Homo sapiens: one gene and its partners. The protein of the gene in region 6 interacts with the protein of the main gene of each other region in a pairwise test. Each region holds a gene or a part of one and is shown on either strand. Other genes may lie near its edges. The genes, in order: SPARCL1, RAI14, CKAP5, WHAMM, THOP1, TTC3 and USP28.

Evidence for each region.
Region 1: the proteins of TTC3 (region 6) and SPARCL1 interact in a two-hybrid assay, tested with the Homo sapiens proteins (one large-scale study listed by BioGRID and IntAct).
Region 2: the proteins of TTC3 (region 6) and RAI14 interact in a two-hybrid assay, tested with the Homo sapiens proteins (one large-scale study listed by BioGRID and IntAct).
Region 3: the proteins of TTC3 (region 6) and CKAP5 interact in a two-hybrid assay, tested with the Homo sapiens proteins (one large-scale study listed by BioGRID and IntAct).
Region 4: the proteins of TTC3 (region 6) and WHAMM interact in a two-hybrid assay, tested with the Homo sapiens proteins (one large-scale study listed by BioGRID and IntAct).
Region 5: the proteins of TTC3 (region 6) and THOP1 interact in a two-hybrid assay, tested with the Homo sapiens proteins (one large-scale study listed by BioGRID and IntAct).
Region 7: the proteins of TTC3 (region 6) and USP28 interact in a two-hybrid assay, tested with the Homo sapiens proteins (one large-scale study listed by BioGRID and IntAct).

What each region holds. Positions count from the first base shown.
Region 1 is NC_000004.12:87,522,783-87,526,760, forward strand, and holds part of SPARCL1 (SPARC-like protein 1 isoform 1 precursor), read right to left. Parts: intron 3,714-3,978; exon of another isoform or gene 2,571-3,713; intron 1-2,570.
Region 2 is NC_000005.10:34,809,407-34,813,384, reverse strand, and holds part of RAI14 (ankycorbin), read right to left. Parts: intron 2,374-3,978; coding exon 2,267-2,373; intron 1,619-2,266; coding exon 1,440-1,618; intron 1,206-1,439; coding exon 1,177-1,205; intron 1-1,176. UniProt on the Homo sapiens protein: Plays a role in actin regulation at the ectoplasmic specialization, a type of cell junction specific to testis. Important for establishment of sperm polarity and normal spermatid adhesion.
Region 3 is NC_000011.10:46,794,019-46,797,996, reverse strand, and holds part of CKAP5 (cytoskeleton-associated protein 5), read left to right. Parts: intron 1-27; coding exon 28-192; intron 193-1,056; coding exon 1,057-1,185; intron 1,186-2,220; coding exon 2,221-2,403; intron 2,404-3,978. UniProt on the Homo sapiens protein: Binds to the plus end of microtubules and regulates microtubule dynamics and microtubule organization. Acts as a processive microtubule polymerase. Promotes cytoplasmic microtubule nucleation and elongation. Plays a major role in organizing spindle poles.
Region 4 is NC_000015.10:82,807,994-82,812,592, reverse strand, and holds the start of WHAMM (WASP homolog-associated protein with actin, membranes and microtubules), read right to left. Parts: upstream 2,966-4,599; 5' UTR 2,867-2,965; coding exon 2,258-2,866; intron 2,133-2,257; exon of another isoform or gene 1,884-2,132; intron 1-1,883. UniProt on the Homo sapiens protein: Acts as a nucleation-promoting factor (NPF) that stimulates Arp2/3-mediated actin polymerization both at the Golgi apparatus and along tubular membranes. Its activity in membrane tubulation requires F-actin and interaction with microtubules.
Region 5 is NC_000019.10:2,809,333-2,813,212, reverse strand, and holds part of THOP1 (thimet oligopeptidase), read right to left. Parts: intron 2,910-3,880; coding exon 2,723-2,909; intron 2,574-2,722; coding exon 2,445-2,573; intron 1,616-2,444; coding exon 1,479-1,615; intron 99-1,478; coding exon 1-98. UniProt on the Homo sapiens protein: Involved in the metabolism of neuropeptides under 20 amino acid residues long. Involved in cytoplasmic peptide degradation. Able to degrade the amyloid-beta precursor protein and generate amyloidogenic fragments.
Region 6 is NC_000021.9:37,149,276-37,153,253, reverse strand, and holds part of TTC3 (E3 ubiquitin-protein ligase TTC3), read right to left. Parts: intron 3,177-3,978; coding exon 3,084-3,176; intron 2,435-3,083; coding exon 2,370-2,434; intron 1,362-2,369; coding exon 1,225-1,361; intron 304-1,224; coding exon 1-303. UniProt on the Homo sapiens protein: E3 ubiquitin-protein ligase which catalyzes the formation of 'Lys-48'-polyubiquitin chains. Mediates the ubiquitination and subsequent degradation of phosphorylated Akt (AKT1, AKT2 and AKT3) in the nucleus.
Region 7 is NC_000011.10:113,868,848-113,872,825, forward strand, and holds part of USP28 (ubiquitin carboxyl-terminal hydrolase 28), read right to left. Parts: intron 1-3,978. UniProt on the Homo sapiens protein: Deubiquitinase involved in DNA damage response checkpoint and MYC proto-oncogene stability. Involved in DNA damage induced apoptosis by specifically deubiquitinating proteins of the DNA damage pathway such as CLSPN.

The DNA of each region.
Region 1 (3,978 bases), on a different chromosome or scaffold from region 6:
AGGTGTTTTGCCTTCATAACACTTATTTCAGTGTATCATTATATATGGCATGTGTTCAAATAAAATGTGTTTTTTCTCACGCCACCAAATCCTGCCGTAAAAAAGAGGGATTTGACTTATATTCAAGTGCTTCCAAAGTTTCTTCATTTTGAGCAGCAAAGTACTATTCAAAAAAACAATTAGAAATCATCTCAAGAGCTGGGCACAGTGGCTCATGCCTGTAATCCCAGCACTCTGGGAGGCCGAGGTGGGTGATCACCTGAGGTCAGGAGTTCAAGACCAGCCTAGCCAACATGGCAAAACCCTGTCTCTACTAAAAGTACAAAAAATTAGCCAGGCGTGGTGGTGCACACCTGTAATCCTAGCCACTCAGGAGGCTGAGGCAGAAGAATTGCTCCAGCCCAGGAGGTAGAGGTTGCAGGGACCCAAGGTCACACCACTGCACTCCAGCCTGGGTGACAGAATGAGACTCTGTCTCAAAAAAAAAAAAAATCTCAAGCAATGCTTATTTTTATTCTTAGGAAGGTCACCTTGACAAAATGGATGAAAAAATAGATAAAGATATTTAAAGCAGGTTTAGTCATTATTCCTGAGGTATGACTTCATTATTGCAAGTTGGAATCACATAGTTTTAGAAAGCCACACTTACAGTTTCAAGTGGTTTTTAAATACGCCCTTTAAAAAGCACTGGAAAAACAATCTAGTCAGTAATGAAAGTGTGGAGAACATGACCACGAGTGAGGACTAATGCCTGGGGATTAAATTTGCAGCATCAGCAGATGTTTAGCAACTTGCAGAAGGATTGATGATGTGCTCTGTATTAGATAATTACAGCGTGGATCCAGTGAACATACACATTGGTGTTAAAGATGCGTATGAAGAGTTTTAACAAAATTGTTTCATGAAATGTGAGAAAGGAAAAAGTCATGTTAATAAGTATAAAATATTTAAATTAAAGTAACATATTAAATATGTATGTGAACCATAGATTAAATATCCCAAGTGTACATTACAATATATTACCCATTTGTACATGCTGTTTGGCCAAACACTTTGGTTGAGGATGTTCTCACTAGAAAGATGAAGATGGCATTGTATTTGGGGGCACCTTATGTTTGGTCCTATGCAGTTTTCATTATTGTGATGGTTTGATTAATGACCATTTTCATAACTACATAGTAAGCACCACAAGAGCTCAGCCCCTCTCTAGTTTTGCTCCTTGCTGCATTTCTGGAATTTTGCATGGGATAGAACACTGAATACATTAGTTGTTTGAGATGTAAGATAAAAATGCTAACTTATTTTCATAATTGCATGACCTAGAAAACACTGGAGGAACTGAAACAGAAACGTAATAAAAAGTTAATGAAAGATAAGATGTTTTAATACTTTTTACCCTGGTGTTAATCAAGATGAGATGAGTCTTTATAAATGTAAAAAGTCACAATTCTTTTTTTTCCCCCTGTAGAAATCAAATGGTTCACATTTATGCAATGATAATTCTGAGGCCTCTATTCATTATATTTGACTCACTGGGAATTCTAAGTTCAAAAAGGCCATTCATGTCAGAGTTAGATCAAACTGAAACTTACCCAATAGTCCCACAGACAGATCTTTTTGAAAAACATAGAAGTTGACCCTCCTGGTCTTAAAGTGTGAAACTTATATTTGTTTTATCTAAGTTCCTTCCTCAGGACAGGACCTTCAGGCTTCTAAAAAAGTATAAAAGAATGGAAACTCACCAGATCACTGCAGCAGATGCCTGACCGCTTATTCACCATGATTGTTTCCTTACCCCTACCTAGTTCTTATTTTCTTACACATTGTTACATTTTTCCCTTGCTATGTAAACCCCTAGTTTAAGTCAGTTAGTGAGATGGATTTGAGACTGTGCTCCCATCTCCTCAGCTGCAGCACCTGATTAAAGCCTTCTTCATTGGCAATACTTGTTGTCTCAGTGATTGGCTTTCTACGAAGTGAGCAGCAGGACCTAGACTGGAACCTTGCTGTTTCAATAACAAAACCATGAAAAAGAATTGTAATAACTACTACTTATTGAGCATGTACATTCATTATTTTAGTTAATCATACAATGATCATCTTGGCATGGTGGCTCACACCTGTAATCCCAGCACCTTGGGAGCCTGAGGCAAGCAGATCACTTGAGGCCTGGAGTTTGAGACCAGCCTGGCCAACATGACAAAACCCCATCTCTACTAAAACAACAAAAATCAGCCAGGCATGGTAGTACATGCCTGTAGTCCCAGCTACTCAGGAGGCTGAGGCACAAGAATCACTTGAACTCAGGTGGTGGAGGTTGCAGTGAGCTGAGGTCATGTCACTGCACTCTAGCCTGGGCAATAGAGCAAGACTCTGTCTCAAAAAAAAAAAAAATACAATGATCTTATGAATTAGCTGTTATCCACATTTCACAAGTGGGGGAAACTGAGGCTCCTGAGCTTAGCAGCCAACCTTTACCATGGGTTAGATACTGTAATAAATGCCTTACATGCTCAATCTCATTCAATTCCCATGACAATTTTATGACTGTTATTATATCTATTTCACAGATGAGAAGACAGAGGCACAGAATGGATTAGATTAAAACAACTAGAAGGTATGAGTGCCAGGATTCAAGTCCAGGCAGTCTGCCCCAGAATTCCCCTCTATAACCACTACACCATAGCACATCGTGAAGATGGGAGGAAGCAGTGGGAACTTGAAAAATGGATTTATTGCAGGGTTTGCTGCAGTATGTGTATCATGTGAGGCCATTTCTATTTCTCTTTCTTTGCCTTCCCAGTTGTTTTTCCCCTGTATGCCACAGTAAACTAGCCACTGTTTTAGCAGCTCTCTTGTTGATTTTTAAAATACCTATTCACTAAATCTTTAAAGGAAACATTTAGCTACTGCAATGGGTGTACATAAGTTGGTTGTGTAATAGGAAGGAAACAAGCCAGGACTGGAGACTTCATTTCTAAAGAAGGATTTTAAAGCAGACTAAGAGTTATTTCCCAGAGCAGGTCATGAAGCAGGAGTCTCTCTACACCCTTTCATTGCTATGACGACAGCCTGCTCCTGCTACATGCAGCCAGAAAAAGCAGCTTACATTTCAATGCTAGGAACATAGGGGAGAGGTTTACAAAAACACCAAACAAAGACAAAAAAACAAAAAAAAGACTCTTTCACTTGAATTTCAGTTAGAGAGGAAAAAATATCCCCTGGAGCAAGTCAAAAGCCCTATTCTTGCCTTTAGAAGAGATAAGAAAGAAGAAATGTTGGGGGCTTTCCCTCTTGTCCAAGTGGGCCAATAAAACAGAATTGACAGCAAAGCAGCATTTCTTCTCACTCTGTGTAATGGCAAGCTGGCATAGAACACTTTCTTTGGTTTCCTTTGACTTGGCCATTAAGAAGCTACTAACTGATGCAGCAGTGAAGTCTCATAGTAATAAATACCTCGTGTTGAGGCCCCCCACCAGGGGAAAATAGTAGTGTCCGATTTACTTTTACATTTCTTTGGATAAAAAAGGCAATTCAAAGAATATTTCCTTCTTGATCTCCATTGTTACTACCAGAGAAATCATTGCAAGTATGTAACAGAGGCCTCACTGATATACGAGATTCCTTATGAGCAACCAGTCAACTTTCCTATGTGTTTACTTCTCTGCCAGGTGCTATACTTGGCATTTAATAAACATCACATTTCATTCCTACAACGACCTCATTTGTGTGTATTATTATCCCCATTTTGCTAAACAGATGAGTAAACTGAGTCATGCAGGTGGGAAGTAACTGCCAAAGCTTACACTGATTGTAAGAAGCAGAGTCAGGATTCTAGCCCAGATGCATTGGACTCTGAAGCCCATGCTCTGTCCACTCTGCTGTGCTGCCTCAGAGGCATACACCTGGCATTCATATTTTATTATAGAGCAAAACGTATAAGTACAAGGAAGAAACCCTGAGAAAATATCTAGAGTC
Region 2 (3,978 bases), on a different chromosome or scaffold from region 6:
TGCTTTAATAGCAAGAAAATAAAAACACATGAGACAAAACCAGATTAGGTTGGTGTGGAGAACTGGGAAAGTAGAGGTTGAGGTCTACTACAACTTAGAATCCAGAATACAATCACAGCCAGCTTTCTGTATTAATGAAAAGCAATGGTATTTCCCACACGTCTGCATTACTTCCATTCCTTTTTTTAAAGACTATAAATATGAGGGAAAGGGATAACTTCATTTTTGAAGGTTACTGGTAAGTAATACAGTTAGCACATAAATTTAGTATTGAGTATTTGCTGTTTATGATTTCTTCAAGAACGTAGATGTGTAAATAAATAAACAACCAAACATATACTGTTCATCAAAAAAACAGATAGTGACAATATATTTTTAGAAAAAACTACACAATAACAGGGCAAACTCAATTTCTACTTTGTGTAACACCACATGACGTTCTAGAAAAACCCTAATTAAAAGAAAAGGCTAAATTCTCTTATTTTCATTAAATAGCTAACATTTTCTGGCTGAAGCTCTGTAGCTCATGTGATATTACAAGTATTTAAAACAGTGTTATTCAGTCACAGAGTTTAAGCCACATCAAACATTTTCACACCAATAGGAAGTATGAGTTAGTACATTTCAGAAAAAGATGAACATATAAGTAGCAAGTTTAAAGTTACATGCTTTTGAAATAAAGCAAATTATTAAGGAAAGCTTTACCACCTTTTTTTTTTGAGACGGAGTTTCACTCTTGTTGCCCAGGATGGAGTGCAATCGTGCAATCTCAGCTCACCGCAACCTCTGCCTCCTGGGTTCAAGTGATTCTCCTGCCTCAGCCTCCCGAGCAGCTGGGATTACAGGCACGCACCACCATGCCCGGCTAATATTGTAATATTAGTAGAGGCGGGGTTTCTCCATGTTGGTCAGGGTGGTCTTGAACTCCCGACCTCAGGTGATCCACCAGCCTCGGCCTCCCAAAGTGCTGGGATTACAGGCGTGAGCCACCGGCCCGGCCTGGCAACCTTTAACACCTTATAACAATGACTTATTTATTCAAAGATATTTCAGTCCCTAAGTATTTTCAATATAGTCTTTATTACTTTACTAGTGGACCAGAGTGGTTAAATCTGAACATTTTTAAATTCCCACAAGCATAAATGAAACATAGAAGCCTCCCCCAAAGATAAATACCTGCTTTGGTTTTGTTGGGGTCTTTAAATCTATAGAGGAAAAAGTGAAAAAAAGAACTATAAGAAGCATAATGATTCATATTCACTTTGGGTGGGGGGATACACACACATACACCATATACAATATTTTTTAACACTCCTTTTTTTTTCAAGAATATGTTTAAAAGAATAATAAAATATATCATATTGCACACATTCCTTTATCCTTTGGGGAAAATGGAGTGGATAAACTTAAAACAACATTGGCTATTTTCTTTTACATACCAGCATCCTGAGAGATTTTTGATAATAGAAGGCTTTGAATTCCTGCATTTTCTGAGAGTTTGGAATAATGTAAGGCATTGTATCCAAGAGAATCTACAAGGTTTAGGTCTGCACCCTTTTTAATTAAGGCTTCCACAGCGTTAGAGCTGCCAATCTCACAGGCCAGCATGAGAGCAGTTCTAAAGGAAAAAAGAGACACAAAATTAGTACTAAGAGAATGTAAAAAGTCTTTCTTGGGAAATCAGTTGTCTTAAAAAAAGAGAAAAGAAGATTAAGTGCAGTTAAACCTTTATTACACTTAATCTTCAGGGAATTCGAAGTGGAATGCAATCAAGATGAAATTAGGTGGTTTTTTTTTTTTTTAAACTTCAGATTAAATCAAAACATTAAACCACATTTTGTCAAACAACACAATCTTCTATACTATTTGGCATAATATGATGGGATTTAATATGACTGGCATGAATCTTATCCTTGTTTTACCTCAAGCATTTTAAATAACATATATATTTCTAAGACCATTTCTCCAAAACAACCAATAGGTTTGTTTTATTTTGCATAGAAAGTCACAGGAAATTGTTTATTCACATTAGCATTTAATAGTCTCCTCACAGACTTAGCCAGCAATGATGTCCACAGATGTCTGGGGAAAATTGCTTTAAAGTCAACATAGATTCTTGATTATCAGAAACAGTAGAACTTTAAAAAGGTAAGAAGTTAAAAATCCCTTATAACAAATGATCCAAAATATAGCTGTGATATTTTGAAATACTCTCAGAATGTGGGTATCACTGAAGTCACATGATTTCTGCCTAATTCTGGAGTACCTTCCACTTTTGTTCCTGGAATTGACATCTGCTCCATGATCCAGGAGAAAGTGACAGATCTCACTGTGACCATTTTGTACAGCAAGAAGCAGCGGTATATTCCCATCCTAGGAGACAAATTCAGATTTAGATTTTACCTCAGGCACAAAATGCCAGAATTGCAAAAGTCAGCCCCTGTTTTTTGCACATTTTTCTCCTGACTTGGACTGCTGACTGCTGATCTAGTATCTGGTCCAACCTGATATTCTGTACCCCTATAGAGTCACGATTGTATGTTGGCACAACTCTTGTTATGGAATTTTACTGAATGCTAGCTTTTACATAGGAGCTCCAGCTTCTTGCGGCTGCTTATGCCCTTGGCTATCACTGTTTGGGTGACTGTGAGAGAGGACAGAACACAAAGTGTGTAAAGGCTCAAGGCAAGTGTACCGGGTATACTGAGGGACGGTGCTGGAGAAAGGAAGGGCGTGTCTCCGCACGACACCAGAAGATCCCACTGCCCTGTAGGCAGCTTATTCCCAGTGCACTAATCATTATATATCCTGCCATTCCACTTTTACCGAAAGTGTACCCTTTAGTAATCTTGCTATGTATCAAAATATAACATAAATTAAGAGCCTATGTCTGTTACTAACACATGACTAGATAAAGAAATGGATAGAAAGAATAATTATGTCATGACAATTGCAACCCCTTTGGGAAAAAGGAAATCTAGGTCTCCAACTCATATACAAACTATGTCAGGTGGATTAAGCATTTAAACATTACAATATAAAACAAATGATGAAAAATACTAGAAGAATATACATAAGTATTTTTTGTAATCTTAGGTCTGACACAAACCATAAAGAGAAGTTGTTATTTTGTTTTTTTTCTGGAATATACCCTATAAATCCATCGACAGTGAGTTTTAAGGTAGAAGCATTCAATAGGCAAAGGGAAAAGATGTTACAATATATCCAACTATTTAAAAATACAAGTGCTACTTAAAGATTGAGTATTGTCATAAAGAATTTCAGATAGATTTCTGGGCACTATCTCTGTGAAGTTATACTACTTTCTGCTTAGGAAGTACTGAACTTCAAGGAATATGAATTTATTTACAGATTCTATCTAGTCACTTCACAGCATCTCCATCAAATATAAGTGTATGCATGTCAGTTCTCATGCTGCAACATGAAATATAACCCCATGACAGAACCATGTGATAGGTATATAAATTTATTCTCAAAGTAGCCTGGTGAAGTTAAAATAGCCTAGTAATGGTCTTCAAAGTTGGGAGATTCTACGTAGAAGTTATCCAAGTGCAGAAAGAAAGTAGTAAAATTTCTATTTAGACTTATTTTTAAAAATCAAGAAATTAAGCTTTATTTGTAATTACATTGATGGTAGAAAACATGTATAGCCGTAGAAATAAATATACCTATATAGGAAATATATGCTGCAAAATGTTTTACTAATGTTTTAGAAGCTAATTAACCTTCTTCCCAGTTTAGAAAAAAAAAAAAAAGTGCAGCTCTCTGCCAGAGCTCATTTAATTTTATATAAACACACTCTTTGAGGCTGAAGAAAATCTGACTGATTTTCAATGTGAAAATAAAATATAAAAACTGTTCTTGGAGTTATTTCTAAACAGAACTAACACCAGAATCATCTGTCTCAGAAAAATCGGATTCATCAAATGAATCTTCAGCCAAGATCTCTTTGAGAAC
Region 3 (3,978 bases), on a different chromosome or scaffold from region 6:
CTCATTAACCACATTTTCTTTCTAAAGACCACACTACAGAACATCAGTGAGGATGTTTTAGCAGTAATGGATAATAAAAATCCAACCATCAAGCAGCAGACATCTCTTTTTATTGCAAGAAGTTTCCGCCACTGCACTGCTTCTACCCTGCCAAAGAGCTTGCTAAAGCCCTTTTGTGCTGCACTACTTAAGGTACAGACTCTCTTTGAAGTTGGGGGAATATTTTATACCTAGGCAAGATTCTTTTCCTGCAAATTATGTACAGTGACTACTTGACTTTCAGACTATAGAGGTTATGATCTTTTGAGGAGCAGAGCCTTTGCAGCTTGGAAACTGAATCCAAATTCTCCTGTGTTCCTCTTCTTGAAAGAAAGCACAAGTTAGTGTTATGATTCCATTAACTGTTAAACATGTTGTTTCTTACTTGTCCCATATACTGGTGTTCAGCTGAATCTGGCCAAGCATAGGCATCAAATGTGGAGTATTTGAAGATCATTTGGGAGTGAGTTATTTTAGATAGAGGGTAAGAGGAAAAGGAAATACTTATTTGCTAAATGGATTACCAAGGGTTTCCTTAACCCGAAAAATTTTTGTTTTTTTTTTTTTGTTGTTGTTGTTTTTGTTTTGTTTGAGATGGAGTTTAGCTCTGTTGCCCAGGCTGGAGTGCAGTGACACAATCTTGGCTCACTGCAGCCTCTGCCTCCTAGGCTCAAGCAATTCTCCTGCCTCAGCCTCCTGAGTAGCTGGGATTATAGGCATGTGCCACCACGCCCGGCTAGTTTTTGTATTTTAGTAGAGATGGGGTTTCACCATGTTTGCCAGACTGGTCTCGAACTTGGCCTCCCAAAGTGCTGGGATTACAGGCATGAACCACTGTGCCTGGCCCAAAAAGAATTTTTGAAAGAGTAACTGTCAATTGGCACAAGGAAAGCTATACTTAGTTCCAGTAAATTGTAAAAAGCAAATTCTTTATCTAGCAACCATCAGTCTGAATTAAAATGAGTAATGCCTAAAATACCTTGCATTAATATCATTTTGCTTACTTCTGGACTATAGCACATCAATGATTCTGCTCCTGAAGTCAGAGATGCCGCATTTGAAGCATTGGGTACTGCTTTGAAGGTGGTTGGCGAGAAAGCAGTAAACCCATTCCTAGCTGATGTGGACAAACTCAAGCTTGATAAGGTAGGTTAGTAATGGATTGGACTGAAATTGGACAACATTCCTGTCTCTTTGCATCATGGCTTTGTCTCTTGACAGTTATAGAGTACTGGTAGTTTTGATGAGGAGTTCTTGATTTTTTTTAAATTGCCATTTATAGTAGGAAAGAAATGCATAATTGAAACAAGTTTTGGAGGATGCTCTCTGGTACTTTTTGTCTTCAATTTTGTCTGTTGTTTTATTAAGAAAAAAATGCTGATATCACCTCAGGAAATTTATTTCATCCTCCACTGATAGTTCAGACCGAGTTTGAAAACTTAGCTTTTGAGAATTTAAGTTTCATTCCAGGCTATGATGGTGATAATTGTAGAAATAGCTTTCAAATTATAACCGAAAAAAAGCTGAGTGACCAATCTGTAGAGAAGGTGAAAACAGTTCTGTGAGATAAATTTATTTCTAAGGTCCAGAAAATTACCTTCTTATATGTGAATGTCTTCCATAAACAATGTGGTCATTTTAAGTTTATTACAATTCTAATTTGTAAAGAAATAAAATGTAAGATTAATATCTTACGTATGTCTATCTACTGCCAAAAAAGTGTAGATAATTTATCTTTTTTGTTGAAAGGGAAATTTTTTCTCTGAAAATTTTTTTTTTTTTTTTTTTTTTTTGGCAATGAATCTCACTCTGTCACCCAGGCTGGAGTGCAGTGGCACAATCTCAGCTTACTGCAACCTCTGCCTTCTGAGTTCAAATGATTTTCGTGCCTCAGCCTCCCAAGTAGCTGGGATTACAGGCGCCTGCCACCACGCCCGGCTAAACTTTTTTATTTTTAGTAGAGATGGGGTTTCACCATGTTGGCCAGGCTGGTCTCAAACCTCTGACCTCAAGTGATCCACCCATCTCGGCCTTCCAAAGTGCTAGGATTATAGGTGTGAGCCACCTTGCCTGGCCATTTCTCTGAATTCTTATGTGTAGTTGTGGTTTAGAAATGTAATAACGTAGTGGTTGTGTTTCAAAGTTGGGCTTAATGATGTTCATCTCACTTTCATTCTCCAGATCAAAGAATGTTCAGAAAAGGTAGAACTGATACATGGTAAGAAAGCTGGACTAGCTGCTGATAAGAAGGAATTCAAACCTCTGCCTGGAAGGACTGCTGCTTCAGGGGCTGCAGGAGATAAGGACACAAAGGACATTTCTGCACCCAAACCAGGACCTCTAAAAAAGGCACCTGCTGCTAAGGTTAATAGATTATTTAAAAATAGAAGTTAGTAAGGAAGGGTCTGAGTCTCAGGTTCGTGGTTGTTCCTCTAAAATTATTTTGTTTGAGAAATGAATTCATTGGCCACATTAAAAATACAGCAGAAAATCTGTTAATGAAGATAGGATATTCCAGCAATAAATTCAGCTGTTTGGAGCTTTAATAGAGATAAAAATGGTGATGAAGGCACAGAAGTGTGTTTTGTCAATTTAACATAAAATTTACTATCTTAACTTTTTTTTTTTTTGAGATGGAGTCTCGCTCTGTTGCCCAGGCTGGAGTGCAGTGATGCAATCTTGGCTCACTGCAACCTCCGCCTCCCAGGTTCAAGTGATCCTCCTGCCTTAGCCCCCCAGTAGCTGGAATTACAGGCACGTGCCACCATGCCAGGCTAATTTTTGTATTTTTAGTAGAGATGGGAATTTGCCATGTTGGCCAGGTTGGTCTTGAACTCCTGACCTCAGGTGATCCACCCGCCTTGACCTCCCAAAGTGCTGAGATTACAGGCGTGAGCCACCGTGCCTGGTCTGTCTTAACTTTTTAATGTGCAGTTCATTAATATTAAGTATGTTTATAATGTTGTGCAGCATCACCACAATCCATTGCCGTAATGCTTTTCATGTTTTAACACTGAAACTCTATGAATCAATTAACTATCCTCCCATTCTCAGCTTCTTCCAGCCCCTTCTTTCTGTTTCTATGAATTTGACTACTTTGTTTTTATTTTCTATATTTTTTAGAGACAAGGTCTTGCTCTGTTGTCCAAGCTGGAGGGCAGTGGTGCGATTATAGCTCACTGCAACCTGGAACTCCCAGGCTCAAGTGATCCTCCTCACTCAGCCTCCCAAGTAGCTAGGATGACAGGGACTTGCCACCATACCCAGCTTATTTTTAAAAATTTTTTATAGAGGGCCTCGCTGTGTTGCCCAAGCTAGTCTTGAACTCCTGGCCTCAAGTGATCCTCCTGCCTTGGCCTCCCAAAGTGCTGAGGTTACAGGCATGAGCCACCAAGCCTGGCCTTGAGCATCTTTTCATGTGCAGGTGGCAATCTGTAGTTGTATAGTTCTTCTTGGAAAAAAATATCTACTCAAGTTCTTTGCCCATTTTTGAATTGGGTTGTTTTGAGGCAAGGTCTCACTCTGTTCCCCAGGCTGGAGTGCAATGGCACAATCACAGCATACCTCCCAGGCTCAAGCAATCCTCCCACCTCAGCCTTTTGAGTAGCTGGGACCAGAAGCACGTGCCACCACACACAGCTGATTTTTTATTTTTTAATATTTTTGTAGAGACGGGTTTCACTGTGTTGCCCAGGCAGGTCTCAAACTCCTAGGCTCAATGAATCCTCCTGCCTCCGCCTCCCAAATTCCTGGGATCACAAACCTGAGCCACTGCCCCCAGGCTTATGATGCTTTTGCCCTCTATTTTGTTCTAAAGATTTTATAGTTTTAGGTCTTACATTTATGTCTTTATTTTGACTTTATTTTTATATACGGTGTCCAACTTCATTCTTTTTGCATGTGGATATTCAGTTTTCCCAGCACCATTTGTTGAATAGA
Region 4 (4,599 bases), on a different chromosome or scaffold from region 6:
TTTTCATTTCACTTTTCTGACTGTAAAGGTGTTGTGAGGCTGTATTCCTTTTTAAAGCTCGTAAGGGCCAGGCGTGGTGGCTCACGCCTGTAATCCCAGCACTTTGGGAGGCTGAGGTGGGCGGATCACGAGGTCAGGAGATCGAGACCATCCTGGCTAACACGGTGAAACCCTGTCTGTACTAAAAATACAAAAGATTAGCCGGGCGTGGTGGCGGGCGCCTGCAGTCCCAGCTACTGGAGAGGCTGAGGCAGGAGAATAGCATGAACCCGGGAGGCGGAGGTTGCAGTAAGCCAAGATGGCGCCACTGCACTCCAGCCTGGGCGACAGTGCCAAGACTCCATCTCGAAAAAAATTTTAAAAAAAGACCTCATAAAACATTACAGAGCTGTCTCCAAGTACTTCAGCATGTTGATTCTCTTAATGCCCCAGATTAATATTCCCATGAAGCCCTTAGCAGTCACCTCATTTACAGAGCCTCAACTGTGGTTCCAGTCTCTGCTGGTTACTGCTTCTGCTGCAGGGCAGAAAATAAACTGAACAGTGTATAATCTAGGTGGACTCACTTGGCAGGAAATTATTTTACTCCCAGAAGAAGAGAAATAAAATCAAATAATATAGATTTTTTTCAACCAATACATTCTTAAATTCTCCTATTTCCATCCTTCTGCTTAAGGATAAAGTGATCTACTTTCAGCTATAGTTTTTTATCCAGGTAATAATATTATGGGTTTTTTTTTTAAGTGAAAGCCTCACTGAACAAAATCAAAACACACACGCAAAAGTAAACTTAAGGCAAGTGATACATTTCAGCCTTATTTCTTAAACTATTCAGAAAAATTCCAGAGTTAAAACATTCAGCTTCATTTTATATATCCTAGCAATACTAGCAATTGGTCTAATTCTAGAATCAATTGCTTTTCCATTCTAAATATTAAAATTATATATTTGAACACGTTTTGAATTTAAGCTTCCTCTCCCAACCCCTCATTTTTAAGTTCCAGATAAATATGTGAACTACACTAACGTGAACGGCTAGCTCAACAGTATGAACTACATTCATGCTATAGTACCCCAGAGTGAACTTAAATTTGGGAAAACTATAACTTTTCTGATAGTATTTACTACAGTAAAATACATCATAAACATGTTCGATTTTAAGGAGAAACCACCTATCTCTGTGAGAAACCGAGTGTGTAAAAAACAAGTCTGATACAAAATGATATCATTTTTGAAACTCCCCTGTGGGTTCCTCATATCCTAAGGTGAAGACGATAAAGTTGAAGATCAAACGCTGACTGGCCTGAAACTCCCCTGTGGTTTCCTCATATTCTAAAGTGAAATCAACACGAGAAGTGGGTGTGTAGATATTTACACATAAAACCCACAGTACAAAAATGACCCCACTAACGAGCTCCTTTTATAAAACCATTTTAATTTGGAAAGCTTATTCTACATTTAGCTTAGGCTGAATTCTTCTCTTCACTTCCCCTTCCTCAGAAGAATGCACAGAAAAAAATCATTCAGGTTAATAACAGCAGTGAGCCGAGACTCCAGCCTGGCTCTCCTTAATAAACTGTGGGTGTGGACTTAGAAGGCATATTTTCTCCTAAACCCTTCTGTGAACTTGTACTTCCCCTCCCCTTAGGTTCAGTAAGTTTACCACTCAAATAATTACTCTCTCTCAAACTACCTCTTTCAAGCTTAAAAGGGCACTAATGCGGTCATTCCAAACTGATGAATAAAGTTCACCTTCTGCCGGCTTTCCATTTGACCAAGTATATATTACTTAAAACAAAACACCCTATCTCCTAAAAGCCATTTCTTCCTCTAAACCATTTTATCCCATTTGCGACGTCCCCTCATACACAGGAATTGCTTACATTTAGTCCGTGTTATTCTTTCCTACATGGATGGGTTGTTTTCAGTCTTGCTTGCAATATTTCTGGCATTTCCTGTTACAACATCCTGCTCTGCCAGCATCTTCAGGGCAAAAGTTGGGGGCCTAGCCCAGCTCCCAGCTGCAAGTACACTAGGCTCTAACTTCGCTTGTCCTCTCTGCAGACCCTCCCGCAGCTCCCGCCGGTTTCCCGCAGCGGTCCCGCGCAGGTGACGGCACTGGGGAGCCCGCGGCCTTCTCCGCCCGCCGGCTCCTCCCCGTCAGCCGTCAGCCAGGGCTCTCGGCGCCGGGGGAGCCTCCCACAGTGTCCCAGGCCATGGAAGCGCGGACGAACGCCGGCGACCGGGCCTCGCTTACCTGGCGCAGCCGCGCGTCCGCCTCGACCCACCGCGCGCGCAAGGCCCGCTCCCGGAACTCGCGCGGGCTTTCGCAGTCGGCCGCGCCGCCCTCAGCCGGGAAGAGTGCGTCGCGCACTGTGGCGCCGCCGCAGCCGTCGGCCGCCGCGCCCAGATAGCGTTCCAGCTGCCCGCACAGCTCCTGCAGCGCCGCCTCGCCGGGACCCGCGCGCGTCGGCCACAGCAGCGCCCACAGCCCGAGCCCCAGACCCCAGGCCCCGCCGCCGCCCACGTCCAGCTCCGGCGGCAGCCGCGGGAAGCAGCGCTCCAGAGGCGGCCACAGCGCCGCCAACTGCCGGTGCGCGCCGCGGAGCCCCGCGGCCGAGAGCAGGCCGGCCCAGCTGGACGGGGAGACGGCGGCCTCAGGCTTGGGCTCGGGCTCGGGCCCCAACCGGGCCCCCTCGCGCAGCCGCCGCTGCTGCGCGGTACGGTCGTGACAAGTCACAGCGAACTTGCCCTCCGCGCCGTTCCAGGCCACCAGGAAGCGCAGCCGGTGCCTCTCGGGCTCGGCGAAGAGGCCCTCCCGGACCGGCACCCAGCCCTCCAGGCTGTCAGGCTGCTCGTCCTCCATGGCTGTCGGCAGCAGCGGCCCTAGGGCTCGGCGGGCGCGGGCCTGGCCTCCTCGCACCGCCTGTCACGGGACAGTCCGAGCCAAATCATTTTTCGCTAGAATCGAAACCGCGTCAGTGCCCCAGCAGCACCCTGGCCCCCGGCACTTCTGATTGGCTGGCTGCCGGAGGTGGGGCTTACAAGAGGCATTCGGGGTTGGTTGGGTGATAGACGAGAGGGCCAGCGACAACCAATGAAAAGGTGAGAAGGTCTCCCTCAGGAGTCAATCATCTCGCAACCTGTTCAGGAGTCTGGGAAATACAACTCTTGCCTCACCTTTTCCACCCAATACATACGGACGTTGGAAAAATATCTGTTGAATCGGCGAGTTATTGTATTAGTCTCCCACACTAAACTATGAACTTGAGAACAGGGACCAAGCTGATTTTCTTTTCTATCATCAGGGCCCTATTGAGTACATGGTTCACGCCCTTAAGAATGTCACAAATGCGTTGGGGAGATGAAATATAAACTCGATAGTCATTTATTGAGGGCCTCTAAGTGCCAAGTACTGGGCAAGAAGCCGCAAATTTATTTTTGTCAATTCAACAAACTTTTATTGAGTGTCGGCTGTGTGTCAGTATTGAGGGGGTGGAGTAAGAGGGGGAATTCAGGGCACTGCAGCTCCCAACCAGGGTGTTTAAATACAATCTGTGTTCTAACTCTTCACTTTAGAGTTAAGGAAACGGAGGCCCAGACAAACTTAAGATACACCGACACTCGGGCTCGACATGCCCCCCTGGCTACGGAAGGCCTGTTTAAGGAGATATCAGGAAATCCAGTTTACGTGTCAGGGTGGAGCTAAATCTGTTCATGCAACAAGCACCAAGACGGCCCTAGTCTCTGCCTAGGAAATGTGCAGTGTAGACTGAGAAATACAGTCCATGTCAGCTCCCATCCTGGGAGTGCACTGAGACAGGTGGTGGGAATGGGAGGAGGAAAGGAGGGAGATGCCAGGAAGCTGGGATCAGGAGCCGTTTGCCAAAGCAAGGCCTGTGAGGTGTTGATTCGGGAACAAGTGAAAGTGTTTGTGAAGGTTTTGAGCTGGGAAAAGTTGGAATCAGATTTTGTACTTGCTGTTATCCCCAAGGGTAAACAATAAGCAAACGAAAAAATCAGGGCGAAGCTAAAGCTCTAGTTAGGGCATCTCTCTGCCTTGAAAATGACCTCAAGAAATCTAGGAACCTCTGTGGAATGCAACTTGAAGATGGAAAGGTGCCTTTGTCTGAAGGTCCCTCCCCTTTTATGCCTGCTGCCGGTGTGAGGGTTGGGGATTGGGCCCTGGGACTCAGTCACTCAGTCTTCTTGGAGAGATAAACTTTTAGCTGAAGTGATTGATTTTCCCCTATTTTAATATACTATTTTAACTAATATGAGTTACTTATGATTTTTAACAGTCTGTTTTAAATATCTTTCTTGTATATTCCTCACATTATATCTTTTTACTATCTGCTTTATACTGTGTTATTTCTGTTAGTTTTCTTATCTATTTGGTTTTTCAAGCGGAAACTGTCAATCTTTCTAATTATAAAATTGTCGTGGGTGGCTGGGTGCAGTGACTAACACCTGTAATCCCAGCACTTTTGGAGGCCGAGGTGGGCGGATCAGTTGAAGTCAGGAGTTCGAGACCAGCCTGGCCAAAATGGCCAAACCCCGTCTCTACTAAAAATACCAAAAAAAAAAAAAAAAAGAGAG
Region 5 (3,880 bases), on a different chromosome or scaffold from region 6:
TCCTGCTTGGGGTCACGGCCCAGGAAGCGCCTCAGCATGGCGCTGGCATCCTCGGAACCGCCGGGTCTCAGGATGCAGCTTCTGTAATCCATGCCAACCTGCCGAGGAGACAGGGCACTGTGGCCGGGTGGGGACCCAGGGAGGAAGGCAGAGGACCCCAGGAGTCTGCACACCCTCGCCCAGGGGGGCCTCGGAGCAACCCCTTCCAGGTTCCCAGGGAGGCCCGGGGGCCGCCTGCATCAGCACAGGTGGGAGAGCGCAGGTGCCTTTCATCAGAATCTCAGAGCGGGGGTGTGCACTGAGGGGCCAGCAGAGCCCCGAACTCCCCAAACTCCCGAGGTGGCTCCCGCCATCAGCCCCCACTGAAATCCCAGGCTGAGCCCATGAACAGAAGTGGCTGAGCCTCCGGCTGGACAATGTGGAAGCCGCTCGCGCTCTGGGCCGCCCTAAAGGCCCAGGTTTGAGCCCAGCCCTGTGACTGCGGGACTACGGGCAGGTGAGGCAGATGAGACTGCGAGGCGCCGGTGCCAGCCACCAAGGAGACCCCGACGCCCCAGAGCCCCGCAGGAGCCTGCGCGGACTGCAGGCTGCAGAGCCAGGGAGCCACAGTCCCAGCTCCCACCCGGGGGACTCCACCTCTACAGCCCCCGGCCGGTCCTCAGAGGTGGGACCCCCTCACCTCAGCAGCAGGGGGAGCTGCTGGAGGCTGCCTCAGGAGGGGGGAGGTCCCTGCTGGGCTGTGAAGACAGGGGGCTTGTCGGACCATTGCTCCCCCAGGTCCTGGCCTCTGCACCTCTATAAAGGGAGCAGCTGAGTGCCTGCTTGGTGGCTCCGAGGTACCTGCAGGCTGCCCAGTGCAATGTTGCACCCAGGCAGGGCAGGGCCGGCCCTCAAAGCTGGTAGCCACCTGTTCCTTGTGAGGGACTCTGGCGGCTGTCCCGAGCCTGGGTCACACCAAGTCAGCGGGAGGCACAGGCTCACATGGCGTAACGGCCGCACTTCATAGTGAGGAAACTGGAGGTTGGAGGAGCAAATGAATGGCAAACGCCAAGCCTTCTCCAGAGAAGGGTCTGTCTCAGCCCATGGCTCTGAGGCCGATCACGCAGATCCCGGAAGGACTCGTATGGGAAGACACGGAGCTCCCAGCACTCACAGCCCGAGGCCTGAGGGGCCAGTGTGGAGCTTCCTGCAGGGCCCAGGGAGGAGCTGTGGGCAGCACCGCACCAAGACCAGCAGGTGCCTCGGCCGGGATGGCTCACCCGGCACACCCAGGCCCAGGCCAAAGGTGTGCTTTTCTCGGCCCCACCCTGCTGTTGAGGACGCCCTCCCTGTCCCCAGTCCCCGCGTACCTTGCCGTTCAGGACGCCCTCCCTGTCCCCAGTCCCCGCGTACCTTGCCATTCAGGACGCCCTCCCTGTCCCCAGTCCCCGCGTACCTTGCCGTTCAGGACGCCCTCCCTGTCCCCAGTCCCCGCGTACCTTGCTGTTCAGGACACCCTCCTGCTTGAAGCGCGTGTGGAACATGTCCATGGAATACACCTCGCTCCACAGGTACCCGTAGTACTGGGCGTCGTAGCCACCTGCCAGATGGCCGAAGGTTGCAGGCATGTTGGTTCCTGGGGCGGACACATGGCAGGGTTCACGCTGTAGCCCCCACCCCATGCTCCTCCTCCAGGAGAAGACAACCAGCCAGACTCCTGAGACCCCTGCCCGGAACAGGGAGAAGCTGGAGGATCACGGTGAGGGCCGAGACCAGCTGGATACTTCTAGAACCAGAGTCAGCCACAAAGCGAGGGCCACAAGTCTCCGCCCCCTCTCCTGGAAGGACAGGAGCTCATTTAACGGGGCTGTCAGCTGCCACAGAGCAAAGTCCCCATTTTGAGACTGCGTCAATAAAGCAAGGCACGCCCACGCAACATCACAGGCCACGCTGCTGAAAACGCTTTTGGAAAGATTTTTGAAGTCTATGGAGTGTTAAGCCAGCAAAACACCACCCATGTTAAAATCATGCTGTATTTCCAAATTCTGGATCCTCGCAAGCGTGTGTGAACACACATGCACACAGGACAACAGGTGAGCATGGAAACAGGGCCCACTTCTCATCATTAGGATCGGAAATTCCTAGGCCTTCCTGTACTTCTCCAGGCTTTTTACAAAGCATGTGTCATACATTTCAATCAGGAAAACGCCAGCTTCATTCAAAGCAGAGGCTCCAGGGAACACACTCCTCCTGGGGGCTGGGGCCGCACACCCGTCCCCGACCCTGGGCCTGCAGCTGCATCTCAGCTGGGGCTGTCCCCCGAGGAGCCTGGGACGCGCTCCGTGGCTCCCCAGCAGGGACTCCTGCACTTGCTAAGTGAAGCATGGGGACCAACTCCCTTCACCTTCCCAGGGAAGCAGCTGAGGCTCCAAATTCCAGGGTGTGCCCGGCTCAAGGGTGGCTACCTGGCGTGGCCGGGACCCCGAGGATCTCCTGGCAGAGCCGCGCATACTCCTCGGCGGGGTCTGCGTCCGTCTGCGTGTGCAGGGCCTGGTCCACCTTGGCGAGGACGATCTGGCGCAGGTTGAAGAGGCCTGGGCGGGAGGGAAGGAGAGAGCTGGCCTCTGCACCTGCCCCGGCCCACTCTGCCCAGAGCTCCGACCCCCACCCGGGGCACATGCCAGGCCCCAGCTGTGTGCCGCCCCCCGAGGTTAGCACCCTTCCCCGGACGGGGCGGGTGCACCTGTGTTGGCCTGCCGGGACTCAATGAGCTTCTCCAGGAGCTCCCGGGGCACGGCGCTGCCTGTGCGGTAGTGCCGCGACATCCGCAGCAGCGGCTCCTGCTCCCACACCCAGTTCTCCAGCATCTGCGACGGCGCCTCCACAAAGTCCCGCTCCACGTGGGTCCCGCTGAACATGGCGAACTCCGCCTGCAGGGATGGGGCAGAGCCTCAGAGTGCCCAGGTCCTGCCTAGCCCGTTCCCGCCGGCCTGGCCCGTGTCAGCTGCCACAGTGCAAACAGGGCGAGTGCACAGGTGATGCGCTGGGCCCGGCCCTCCCACCCCAAAACTGGAAAACGACCGGGACCCGGAGGCCCCTGGGCTGCTGCTGGCTGCCGGTGGCAGCAGGACACACCTGAAGATGCCGGCCACATGACCCCGTCCCTGGAGGCCACCCACGCTTCTCCTCTAGCCACAGAGCTGCTGCTCCCTGAAAGCTCCGCACCCCGAGGGGTTGGGACCTGGGGACGGCCAGGTCCGGGTGGGGACGCTGTGAGGCATGCTGCATCTCCCTGCTCGTGTGTGTGTGGAACCTTCCCTAAAAGCACAGCCCTTGACTGAGTCCCGCTGGAACCATGGCAGGCAGCCAACGGCGAGGGAACTCCTGGGTGATCCTCAAGGTCCTCTCTGCAACACCGAGGCTTTTCTGTTCCAAGGACCACGCAGCCACACTCCTTGTCCCGACGGAATGCACCAAGGGACTCGCCGTGCCAGGCGCCAGGGACACGCAGAAAGCAGCATGCAAAGCAGGCCTGCAGGCACGTGCGTGGGCACCTGTGTGAGCACCTGTGTGGATGTGCACACGCGTGTGCTGGCTACGAGTGCTGTGCAAACAGTGTGGCAGGGAAGCCAGGAAAGGTGGACACACGGTCGATCCTCATTCCTGGACTCCGTGTTTTCAAACTCGCCTACTAAGATCCACAAAAACCCCAGAGGCCAGCACTGCGGCGCCCCTGAGCAGACGGTCCTCAGAAGGGCCGCACTCTGTCTTCTCACTTCGGCTCATTTTATGAGCAAGCGTCCTTTTCTCAGTCTAGTGGGGGCACGGTGTTTGCATCTTTCTGCTCTTGGTGATTTTGTGTTTAAAAGGCCCCAAGCGTTGTGCAGAGCACTGTCTCGTC
Region 6 (3,978 bases):
AGGCGGCTAATTTGGGCTCCACTTCTTTAAGCTCACTCAAAACATGCAGAAATATTCTTGTCTTTACTCTGTTATTTTCTTGAATCAAGTGGCGAATAACATAGTCCACTGCTTCATTTAGAAAATTTCTGCTAGAAAAACAGGTTGTATAGTCTTCTGTGCTCAAAACTTTCCAAGAAAGCAATTCTTTGAGAAGCATGGCTGTATTCTGTATGCCGGATTTAATCTTGTCAGCATACTGCTTTATACACTGTAGAATTCTGTCATCAAGGAACTGACAACGCTGAACATTGTCTACAGTTTCTAAGGATAAATAACAATGGTTAAAGTGATAAATAGGACTAATTCACAATTACATAAACTTAGAAATAACAAAATTACATAATATAAAATATGATTCAGATTGATTATACTGTTTTACTAAACTCAAGAAACTTTAATTAGAAATATAAACACTTAACAATACTTTTGAAAAGACATGAAAGTGTACGCTAAAATAAACATACCAAAAGTAAGCATTTTACACCCTTCATTCTGAACCATTCATGTAGTAGCATTTGAAACTTAGTTCCTCTAGGCCAGGCGTGGTGGCTCATGCCTGTAATCCCAGCACTTTGGGAGGCCGAGGAGGGTGGATCAGGAGATCGAGACCATCCTGGCTAACACGGTGAAACCCCATCTCTACTAAAAATACAAAAAATTAGCTGGGCATGGTGGCGGGCACCTGTAGTTCCAGCTACTGGGGAGGCTGAGGCAGGAGAATGGCGTGAACCCGGGAGGCGGAGCTTGCAGTGAGCCGAGATCGCGCCACTGCACTCCAGCCTGGGCAACAGAGTGAGACTCCGTCTCAAAAAAAAAAAACAAAAAAAAAAAACAACTTAGTTCCCCTAAAATACGGCCACTTCCTTCAACAATCCTAACCCAGCCTCATCAACTACCTTAACTTTATATACAATAAATATGTTTAGTCATTAAGCACAGAAAGTTAAAATACAATCTCTGAAAGGTTTTTCAGTGGGAATACAATCTCTGAAAGGTTTTTCAGTGTTCTTTACACCAACCCAATTCTGTCTTCGAGTAACAGAAGACAGTGATAGTATTAAATTACTAAGTGAAATCTTTATTTCAATTCAATAATGATGAATATAAGGCCCAAAAGATGCTTACATTTATACATTTAAATGAGAGTATATTATTCTTATCATGCCTTTGGCTTCTGCATACCTTTCTGCTCTTCATTTTTGGGTGGATTACTTTCTCTTAAGTCCTCCTCCATTCTTTCTTGTGCTAACTTTTTTGCTTCTTTTTTTTGGATCTTTCTCTTCAATTTTTTGTCTTCTTTCAGTCTTAGTTTCTCTAGGCTGATAAACATTTACAATTAGTGACAACTCAATGAACTGTTTTCCTTTGACTATCGTAGAAACCATCTTCCAAGCAATATATTAGAAGTTTTCCTTTTTTAATCAGAGCCCGGCCTACATCTTCCATTCAATGTAAGAAACTGTCAGTATTGTCAAAATAAGGGTACTTGTTTCATGAAAACAAAAACCTCAATGATTAGGTGATGTCTAAGGATGCAGTCTACAGATTGTATAGATGTCACTTTCATGTATCTAAGTTACTTCATAGGGTAAACAGAAATAGTACAAATTACTCTGCAAAATAATTCATGTAAACTCTCATTTCTAAGAAAGGTCCCATAGTAAAATATAATTTTCACATCTCAATAATAACCCACAACACTATAATTTGGTTGATCTGGTTACAATGAATTCTCTCCAACAAATAATTCTGTTCATCTTTTCTTTTGCTTTTTCTTGGTCACAAATGATAAAAAAAAATCACTTCTTAGAAAGAAAAACAAGAAGCAGGACCAAAAAGAAAAGAAAAAAGAATCTGAATTATTTGATCTAAACAAAAAGCTATAGAGAAGTAATAATTTAGACAGTACATTGAGTATTTCAGGGTAAAAAATAGTCATAGGTTCAAAATGTTTACTGAAGAGAGATAAAAAGAAAAATATGCTTTTGGAATTAAAGTTTCAACAACTGAGAGCAAACTGTATAGTTTTTATATAAATGCCAAATCTATTAATCAAACATGTAATTTCACAGCATCAAATGTTATAATTTTAATTGTAAATTCAACCACTAGATAAATAATTCTGAATCAAGTTTTTAGTATTTAATCATTCTAGGCTAGTTCTCTTTAAGTTTTAATTTTCCATAAAAATCATTTTAAAAAACACTTATTTGAATATATGTATACACAGCCAATTTTTAAAAAGGCATAATTTAGAAATCTGCATTTAATAGAATTATATTCTAAGAGACATCATCAAACCACTGATTGATTGTTAAAAATCTTACCTAGAACATTTCTGTTTCAGAATAGGTCTTGGAGGAACCTTTTCTTTTATGACCTTGTGTTCAAACTTTAAATAAAACAAAGACATCCAAAATTTGTCTCATACTCCCATGACATAAAACACAAAACCACAAGTAACAAGTATTTCAGAAGCACACATAATGTTCAGTTTGATAGAGAACAGTGATGATGTTCTGACCCAGACAAAAGCCCAGAAAGCTTTAGCAAAATAATTTACTGAAGAGGAACAAGAGGGTAGACACACTTGAGGAAAAAGTTTTTAAAAAATTAAGAGTAAGCAGACGATCTAATAAAGTGTAAATATTATTACAACTACCCACTCTTGCCATTCCCATGTCATGAAGTTAAAGGTAATCCCTCAAGACGCTCTTCCCCCTCCCTAAAAACCTGCACACCCACTACTGCCCAAAAGTTTACCGGGATTAAGAAAATGAAGTTATCAAAAACAGTAAAAATAGTAAAACTAAGATATAAAAAGCCTCCTTTTCCTATTAAGAAATAAAAGAATATAAGAATGCTTTCATTACAATGAAGCATTCTCACATCCCAGTATTTCCTATATTTTCTTAAATGAAGTAATTGTTTCTTTCCTGGAAAAGATCCAAATTACATGATATCTACAAATTCAAATCATGTTTCAAAAGGTGTAAACATTTTGGTTATCTATCTAACAAGGTTTCCCCTTTATTACTTACTTCACATTTAACTTCACCACCACTGCTGAAGATGATAATCTTAGAAATGACACCTTCACAGTCAGGGGTAAGACATATTCCTTGTAGAAAATCCTATTTGATTAAAAAAAAAAAAAACAAGAAAAATGTTATGTCTAGGGGGGATAAATCTATACACGTATACTATTTTTACCACTAGGAACAGTCAAAATACGGACTAAAACCATCTTCAGGCAAGTGGTGAAAATCCTTACTCACTGCCATGCGAATTTTAAGGCTTCCGTGTAGGAAAAATATACTTTCAGGTGTGGGTCTGACCATGTGACTTGTTTTCATCAATGCAAAGTGACCAGACATGACATACACATGTCTAGACAAAAGGTTTAACAAACACTTCATAGACTGGACATTGTTCTTTTTCCTCTGACACAGGAAGATGTTCCAGAAAAGGGTCATTCTTCAACTTAGATTGAGAAACAAGGAATAGAGCCACACAAAATAAAGCTGCTACAGCCCAGTCCCAGCCAACAACTGCAGAACTGCAGGACAAGTCATGTAAGCAAAAAACAAACTTCTCTGATGTATGCCACAAGATATTTGGGTTGCATCACTTCAGCATATCCTAGGGAAAGCTGACTAATTTACAGAGTGTATTTAAAATGATGGGAATAGTTAAGACCACTAAAAGAGGGTATATCACTAGAGAAACTCAATTTAGGTAAGACAAAGACATAGCAGAAGTGACTCAAAGGTGACAGTTATTTACTCATATCATTATATTGTTAATTAATTATGTGAAAATGTACAAAATGTGAGAATTTATTTCTACCATACTTTAATAATTGCTATTGTTAACAGATGCCTAGTACAACTGCCTCATTCTTTCCCCAATAAGAACAGTGGTCTGCATAAGCCT
Region 7 (3,978 bases), on a different chromosome or scaffold from region 6:
AGGAGGTTGAGGCTGCAGTGAGCCATGATAGAGCCACTGCACTACTCCAGCCTAGGTGACAGAGTAAGACCATGTCTCAAAAAAAAAAAAAAAAGACAAAAGAAAGAAAAGGAATAAATAAAATAAATCTCATATGAGGCCCTTATAAGGCATACTAACATCTGAGGTCAGGCACGGTGGCTCATGCCTGTAATCCCAGCACTTTTGGAGGCTGAGGCAGGATGACTTGGTTCATAAGTTTGAGACCAGCCTGGGCAACACAGAGAGACCCCATTGCTAAAAAAACTTTTAAAATTAACCACAGGCTGGGTTCGGTGGCTCACGCCTATAATCCCAGCACTTTGGGAGGCCAAGGCAGACGGATCACCGGAGGTCAGGTGTTCAAGACCAGCCTGGCCAACATGGTGAAACCCCGTCTCTACTAAAAATACAAAAATTAGGCGTGGTGGCATGTGCCTGTAATCCCAGCTACTTGGGAGGCAGAGGCAGAAGAATCAATAGAACCCGGAAGGCGGGGGTTACAGTGAGCTGATCTCACGCCACTGTACTCCATCCTGGGCAACAGACTGCGGTCCGTCTCAAAAAATAAAATAAAACAAAAGTAGCCAGGTGTGGTGGTGCATACCTGTGGTCCCAGCTACTCAAGTGTCTGAGGATTGCTTGGGTCTGGGTGGTCAAGGCTGCAGTGAGCCTTGACGGTGTCACCACACTCCAGCTTGGGTGACAGAGTGAAACCCTATCTCAAAAAACAAACAAGACATCTCAGTTTCCTCATCAGTAATAGGGTAATAGTTCACACCTTGCTGGGTTTTTGTAAATAAAAATGTATGGAAAAGTGCTTAGGGTGGTACATAGCATATGGCAGACACGAGTAATACAAGTGTACATTCCCATGCCTAGTATAACAACCCTGGGAAAATAAGTATGAAGCAAACGTTTATAGCCAAGGAGGTTGATATTCAAGCAGACCTGTTCAAAAAGCACTGGGAAACAGAGTATAGAAGTCATTTGCAACTCAGGATTAGAAATGTAGATTTGGAGCCAGGTGTTCACGCCTGTAATCCCAGCACTTTGGGAGGCTGAGGTGGGCAGATCACCTGGGGTCAGGAGTTCAAGACCAACCTGACAAACATGGAGAAACCCTGTCTCTACTAAAAATACAAAATTAGCTGGGCATGGTGGTGCATGCCTGTAATCCCAGCCACTCGGGAGGCTGAGGCAGGAGAATCACTTGAACCCAGGAGGCGGAGGATGCAGTGAGCCAAGATCGTGCCAATGCACTCCACCCTGGGCAACAAGAGCGAAACTCCGTCTCAAAAAACAAAACAAGAAAAAAGTAACAGCAAAAAAGTGGTAATGAGGGATCATAAAAGCATAAAATAATAAAAGTATGAGGGGGCCAGGTGTGGTGGCTCATGCCTGTAATCCCAACACTTTGGGAGGCCAAGGCAGGAGGACTGCTTGAGCCCAGGAGTTCAAGACCAGCCTGGGCAACATAGCAAGACCTCGTCTCTATAAAAAATTAAAAAAACAGCCAAGTGCGGTGATGCACGCCTGTGGTCCCAGCTACTCAGGAGGCTGAGGTGGGAGGATCGCTTGAGCCTAGGAGGTCAAGGCCAAAGTGAGCTATAATCACATCGCTGCACCCCAGTCTGGGTGACAGAGGGAGAGATCCTGCCTTGGCAAAGTAGGCTGCTGAGCAGATTCTGATTACATAAAACCACTCACTGCCTTTCAACCTAACCTGCTGCTGCCTAGTCAGTCCCTCTGCAGGCCTCTGAACAATCAGCCATTTGCTGGAGCCCAGACTGGTCCACACGGCCATCTCATTATTTGGCTTTTGCAGAAGCTGTTATTGCCACCTTAAGCTCTGTAGCAGAATCTGGGAACCAACCTTCCTCAATCTCCTGTCAGCTAAGAGTTAGTCTTGCTCAAGTCTGTCTTTTCCAAGTTTTGTATATTGAGTCTGAATACATTGTCACTGGAAAAATGTTTTAGAAATGAAACAGGTGGGGTTAGAAACTTTGTTCCAAAAGCAAACAAGAGGAGGAAGGTGGAGACAACAGCTGGACTGGGCAATAGACACTTTTGTTGTTGTTATTTGGTTTCAAGATAGAGGACAAGTGCACGGTAAAATGGAAAATGCAAATTCAAAATGTAATATGCAAATGAATCACCCAAGAATCTTGTCAAAAGGCAGAAACTGATTGAATAGGTCTAGAGTGGGGGTACAGGCAGTGGTATGCTGATTGGCAGTGTATGCTTGTTTCCTTGGTATAAATATTCCCACCTTGGCACAGTTATCAACACGAGGTCATTGAACACAGAGCTGGAAAGAGATGTACAAAATCAGCTGGAGAGGCAGAGCAAGCTGGCTCTAGCACACTCAACTTTCTGCATGTCTAAATCCTAGGGGATGTGAATGCTGCTGGTCTGTGGACCATAATGTGAGTAGCAAGGGAGAAGACAGTGAAGGTGTCTGGGGGTTAGACTAGGACTAAGGAGAAGGGACATAATAGAAAGAGAAGAGAGACATCATCTAGATCAGAGTTTGTCAAGCTCAGCACTATTTTATACAATTTACACATAACTCTGTTTAGAGGGGCTTACTCCTGTACACTGCAGGATGTTTAGCAGCATTCCCGGCTTCTACGCACTACATTCCAGTAGCATCCTCCCTCCAGAGTCACAATCAAAGTCTCCAGACATTGCCAAATGCTTCCTAGATTACAAAATCTCTCCCTAGTAAAAACCATTAATCTAGGTTTATCTCTAAGAAATGAAAGGGGGAAAAAGGAAGGGAACCTTTTCCACTGAAATAAGAGAAAAGAGATGAGATGGCGTAGGGAGAGGGGGACAAAACAGAAGGCAGGGAGCTCTTTTTAGACATCAGCGAGCTCAGTCAAGTAGAAAAGAAGATTATCTATTTAGAAAGACTGTAGGGAGGACTGGAAGTTTAAAACATTAGGAGAGTTCTAGAAAAGGCATTATAAGAGTAGTGGAAAGTCTGTGATCCAGGGCAATGGGCCCATCAACTATGAGATAGGACCAGGGGCGCCTTGGGCTCTTGGGGTCAGAACTGCCTAGATACAATTCCAACTGTACCATATCCTCACTGGGTGACCTTGGACGAATTACTTAACAAGTATAAGCCTTCTCATAGAAACTTCATGGAGTTGTGTAAGTACTGAGAGAATGCTATGTTAAGTTCTGAGCACCGAGTCTGGCACATAGTGCATGCTCAATTAGCATTAGCTATTACTATTACCAGCATTATTTTCCTTGTTAAGTACTTGCTTCATTTTACTATTGATTTAATTTCTTTGATGAAACAGAACACATGGAGAGATCTCGCCTGGTAAGATGCTATTTGCCAGTAAGTCTTAAAAATACTGTTTGCAGACCGAGGCGGGCGGATCATGAGGTCAGGAGATCGAGACCATCCTGGCGAACACTGTGAAACCCCGTCTCTACTAAAAATACAGAAACATCAGCCGGGCGTGGTGGTGGGCACCTGTAGTCCCAGCTACTCAGGAGGCTGAGGCTGGAGAATGGCATGAACCCGGGGGGCGGAGCTTGCAGTGAGCAGAGATCGCGCCACTGCACTTCAGCCTGGGCAACAGAGCGAGACTCCGTCTCAAAAAAAAAAAAAAATACTGTTTGCATTTGGGGGCAGAGGGGCATGAGAGTTGTGGAACCAATCACTGACTTACTGATGTTTTAAAAATCAGTTAATGAGACAAAAGGAAACGAAAGGTCAATAAATCAAGAGAAAGCAAAAAGGGCATTAAATTTTCACTGAAACTGGCAGGTTTTTATAAGGCTTCAGCTGACATAAAGAATGTGTGATGTGAACCCTCAGTACAGCTGCCAAGAATGACAGGTTTATAAGAACCAAACTGACTTCAAGTTGTTTCTCCTGTAATAACAGTAAATTTTGCTGCTATCGAAGTCAAGAATTGATTAAAATACAGGAAT